Regions from separate parts of the Homo sapiens genome. Here region 1 is linked to region 2. The links come from fine-mapping of genetic effects on gene expression. Tissue or cell type: anterior cingulate cortex. Region 2 holds a variant in brackets; the other region holds the start of a gene. All regions are shown on one strand. Distances are between the middles of the regions.

Region 1 (2,611 bases), 570 kb after region 2:
CATGGGACAATCAGTACTTCTGTGCAATGGAGGTGGAGTGAATTTTATGTGCTTTTAATCAGATTTTGAGTTAGATTTCAAGTGGGCAGCAGCAGAAACTTAGATTGAATTTTCATAGTGCCATTTCTTGGATCCACCTCCTGAGTTGTCTTTCAAATCTAAATGTTGTATAGGAATGGGGCAGAGGTAAAAGGACTCCTCTTGGACCCTTTTTGATTTCATCCCAGAATCTAAAAAATGACTGTGGGTCTCCCACAGCCCTTGGCTCAGAGGTGAATCCCCTCTTCACCACTGTTAAGAGTCAAATGTTCTTTTGAGATCCCTAAAAGGAAAGGCTGATTTAGTTTAGTTTTAATCTTTGCCATTGGGGCCAAACACAGGATAGGCAAATGAGTGTTTTTGAATGAATAAACCAGCCACATTCACCGCTTACTCCATTGCTTGCTGGAAGGGAGTCAGGTGGTTATTCAAAGATGCTTTTTCTTTAAGAGAATGGCTATATTAAGTACGCAGTTTTCAGCACTTTTAGTAAAGCGAGCTCTACTCTGAACAAAACCAGCAACCCGAGAAGCGATAATGATGTGAAGACAGTTGAGGAGCACATCCCTGGCGTAAGACTGGACTGCCTGTGGTCCAAACCATGCTTCACCACGTCAGTATACTCATCTTTAAAATTAAGATACTAATATGTGCCATCTCAGCGCGGTTGTGTAGATTAGTTACTATATTTAAAATGCCTGCTACACCATAAGCAGCAAATGTTAGATACTGTTTTAATCTTTGGCATATATCATGATACATTTGCTACAGTGGGGTAGGGGTAAGCGTGGGGGTCTAGGGCAGTTAGACACAGTGGGCCATTTAGGGACAGAATACCCCAGTACACGTGTACTTAGGAGTATTTCAGTTCTCCGTGGCTAGTAAAGCCAAGGGATCAGGTAGGGTGAATGAGTCCTTCCCAAGGTCACCTAGCATTGATGGCGGAGACACTCGGCGTTTTCTGGGCCGAATCCCTTCCCATCAGCCACCGGCGGGTTTGGGAGGGTGTGGAAGAGTGTTGGAGTCACCTTAAGTGCCCTTAATTCCTCATCCTGGCATTAGGGTTCAGGAGTAGAGAAGGGAGACTAAGCGGGACGCTTCAGTATGCGCCCTTGGGGCTGAAGGAACCTCCCCGCTAAACCTCGGTTTCCCTGACCCCAAAGGGCAGCGCTCACTGGGGAAGCGGCGCCGCCAGCTGCCAGGACGCTCCCGCGCAGCCCGGTTTCCCTACGCCGGGGCGGGGCAGAGGGGCGGAAGGGGCGGGGCGGCCGGGCCGCGGCGGCCTCCGACTGGATACGGCGGATCGCCGGGGGCCTGAGGGTGGAGTCCCGGCCGGAGGCAGGCCGGGACTCTGGTGGGTCTAGGCGCGGATCGGACCCAAGCAGGTCGGCGGCGGCGGCAGGAGAGCGGCCGGGCGTCAGCTCCTCGACCCCCGTGTCGGGCTAGTCCAGCGAGGCGGACGGGCGGCGTGGGCCCATGGCCAGGCCCGGCATGGAGCGGTGGCGCGACCGGCTGGCGCTGGTGACGGGGGCCTCGGGGGGCATCGGCGCGGCCGTGGCCCGGGCCCTGGTCCAGCAGGGACTGAAGGTGGTGGGCTGCGCCCGCACTGTGGGCAACATCGAGGTGAGGCCGGGCCGAGGGCGGGGACGTCGCGGGCGGGTCGTTTCCCCGGAGTCGGGTTCACCTGCCCGCCACGCCGGGGCCCTTTGCTCTAGTCGGGGCGGCCTCTCGGATCCCTTAAGGCAGGCTTCTCCCTTCCCCTTAAGTCTCATCTTTGAAGGAGCCGTTTGCCCTGACAGCCCCTGCTCGAGTTACCGAATCTCCGACCCCGGCATCTCCCCACCCGCCCCTCGGGTCTCCCCAGGGTATTGGCCCGAGGAAGGGGAAGCCGGAGGTCGGGGGTGGTGGTCTCGCCCCTGTGGCCTTCTCGCCCCCGGCGGCCAAGTGCCTCTAATCTCCAGAAGTCACCCACCACGCAGGGCAAGGTGGCTGGCCAACCAGATGGGCAGGAGCCAGGACTGAGGTTGGGGTTGGGGTGGGAGCTTTACTGAAGAGCCTCAGCCCCGCCCCCTCACCTCGGGGGTAACTCATGCCCAGTGGCATGAGGAATGAATGGAATATTCATTAGTGGGCCCTCCTCCACTCTCCTGGGGCGAACAGAGTGGGTGAAATCGGGCGGAAACCTTGAGAGGATAAAGCAACCTGGAACTCCTTACTCTGCTCTTGACGTGGGGTTGGGAGCCCTCAGAGCTCAGAGAAAAATCAAGATGGCCATTTTGGAGCAGGGAGGAATTTCTGTGCTAGGCTCTCTCTGGATGTGCCCTGTAAGCTCATTCTCAGTGTCGGGCTAGTGCTTAGCTGCAGGGCTTTATCTCCACCGTGCTCAAAGTCCTCAGGCAGGGAAAGGGTAAGGAGGCCTTGGGTGGGGGCAGAGGGAGAAGGTATACAGGAAGGAGGACTGTCCCCTCCCCTGCTGCTGACCAAAGGTATGCTTTATAACCCAGATAATCCCAAGGTCACCTGGCTCCATCACTGCCCCACTCTTTCCTCCCTTTATCCTATTCTGAGGAGC
Region 2 (2,756 bases):
GGATAGCACTGTCCCTCACAGCACAGTCCCTCATGGCTTCCCTTGGCTAGGGGAGGGAGTTCCCTGACCCCTTGTGTAATTTATACAGACCTAGGGGGACTGAACAAAGGGGGTGAACGTGGGAATAAAAGACAAGAGACAAAAGAATATATTTAGTCAGGGGCCACTTTGCCTCTAGTGGACAAGGGCCCTGAGCTTTACATAGCCCTCCATCTTTATTAGGCAAAAGAGATAGTGAGAAGGGGGTTGGAAGAAGGGGTCAGCCGCTTGGTCCAGAGTAGGCTTGTAAGACTGTGTTGTGCTTCCAGGGTGAGGCAATGCCCCACCCTGCTCCTGCTCACCCTCCATGGGCTACACCCACCGTCCAACCAGTCCCAATGAGCTGAACTGGGTACCTCAGTTGGAAATGCAGAAATCACCTGCCTTCTGGGTTGGTCTCACTGGGAGCTGCAGACCAGAGCTGTTCCTATTCAGGCATCTTGCCTGGGAATCCTTGTGCATGATCTTAAATGGCCTATTACACGAGAAAAACTTTCTTCTTAAGTGATAAGGGGAATAACAGAGCCTGCCAACTCATCTTCTTGTTTCTTGTGTAAGACTGGGCCCAGGTCCTTTTTAGAGAAACAAAACCAATCCAAACAATGTCTCCTTAAAGAGGCCTGTAGCTAAAGTCTGCGCTATGCCATGCAATTGAAACTGCTCTAGGGTTGCACAGAGATGGAGTCCCTTAAATATCTTCTGACCATTCCTGTATACCAGCCACTGTATGTGTATTTGGTGATACCAAGTCAAATGAATTGGTTTCAGTTTTGCGCCAAATGTTTCTCCTAACTCACACTGGTTATCTGAAATTAGATCTTGGTTTAAATATTTAACTAATTCCTTCCTTTGATAGACTGTTTGCAAAAATGGGTGCAGTAATTCCTACCACCCAGTGTGCCTACCCTTGGGAAGTCCCTTCGCCTACTGAATCTGGTCTTTGCTATGTGACTGTCTTTGGACAATGAGACAATAGAAAATGTGATGAAAACAGAGGCCGGAAAAGTGCTGGTGCATTGATACTTGCATTATTAATATTTCACTGCTGAGAACTTTTATACCA[C/T]CGCATGTGCCAGCCTATGCTAGCCTACCAAAGGAGGAGAGACCACAAGGAGAGAAAGGTCCCCAGACATCCCAGCTGTCCCAGCTGAGAGGTTATCCTAGGCCTTCAAACCCTGGCTGAGCTGGCTCAGACCGGGAGAACTACCCCTCCAACCTACAGAATTGTGAGAATAGCTGTTTGCTGTTTTAAGTCACTACATTTTGTGGTGATTTATGATGTAGCAAAAGCTAACTGATAATCCTCCTTTTGGGCCATAAGGATAGATTTATCTTTTTTATAAATTTGCTGAACGCAAAAGTAATAGTTCCTTATTCAAGAGGAGGCTTGTTGCTTTATTTTTAAAATTTTTTTGAAACAGGTTCTTCCTTTGTTCACCAGGGTGGAGTGCAGTGGCACAATCACGGCTCACTGCAGCCTTGACCTCCCAGGCTCAAGTGGTCCTCCCACCTTAGCCTCCCAAGTGGCCCGTACTGCAGGCATGCACCACCATGCTTGGCTAACTTAAAAATTTTTTTTTTTAGAAATGGGGTCCTGCTATGTTGCCCCCGGCTGGTTTTGAACTCCTGGGCTGAAGTGATCCTCCCACCTCCACCTCCCAAAGTGCTAGGATAACAGGTGTGAGCCACTGTGCCCGGCTGAGGCTTGTTGCTTTTAATTAAACTAGGTACTTGTTAGAGAAGGACTACATAAATCTTAGTAAAGATGCTTTATTCTAGTTAGGGTAGAGATAGAGGATTGAGGAAGTTTCTGCCATCCAGAGCTGTGGAGCCTTTGTGCCCATTGGAGATTTCAAGGGAGGTCCAGATGCATCCCTTTGGACTGGGATGAAGAGAAACATTTCTGAAAGGGATAGCATTTGATGCAGGTCTCAGAAATAGGACAGAGACTGTATACTGCTTCAAAAGGCAGGGAAGGGAGGAAGAAGATCCTAGTCAGCTGTAACTGCCAATAAGGATAGTAAATAGTTGCAATGAGATATGGGCTACTTACTGTTTTATGTTTTACAATTATTATATAATTAAATCTTAACTACAATCTTGTGAAATAGGCACAGTCATTAGCTCTTTTTCCAGATGAGGCTATGGAGACATACAGCAATAGAGTAATTTGCTAATATTTGCTATATGCCCACATGGGTAGTAAAGGGCAAAGCTGGCATTTGAACCAAGGTCTCTCTAATACTAGACCTCACTATTTAAGACAAAGGCATGGACATGATCAAATTGAGGCACATTTTGGATGTGTCTATAGTATACAAATAATGTACACATAAGCATGATCATTAATGTTTTTAAATTGGACTTTTTTATTTTGAGGTAATTGTAGATTCACATGCAATTGTAAGAAATAATACAGAGAGATCCTGGGTAGTGTACTCTTTACACAGTGTAAAAGTTGACCATACAATTGGGTCATTCTTGTCATACCCAACTAAAACAGAGTTGAGATGCCAGGGGGAGAAAACACTGAGGGCATATAACATTGGTCTAGGCCGGGCACAGTGGCCCACGCCTGTAATCCCAGCACTTTGGGAGGCCAAGGAGGGTGGATCACGAGGTCAGGAATTTCAGACCAGCCCAATAGACATGGTGAAACCCCGTCTCTACTAAAAATACAAAAATTAGCTGGGCATGGTGGCGGGTACCTGTAATCC

The links. PIP is the estimated chance that this variant, and not a neighbour inherited with it, causes the effect.
Region 1: DHRS11 starts here. The variant in region 2 is fine-mapped to the expression of DHRS11 in anterior cingulate cortex (GTEx, PIP 0.99).

What each region holds. Positions count from the first base shown.
Region 1 is chr17:36,590,495-36,593,105 of GRCh38, forward strand. It overlaps DHRS11 (dehydrogenase/reductase 11), which reads left to right and starts at 1,385. Exons shown (of 7, transcript NM_024308.4): 1 at 1,385-1,662. The coding sequence starts at 1,516.
Region 2 is chr17:36,023,734-36,026,489 of GRCh38, forward strand. No RefSeq gene overlaps it. Among named protein-coding and RNA genes, the nearest start is that of CCL23, 7.1 kb to the left of the region's middle. The variant C/T (reference allele first, on the strand shown) is at 1,103.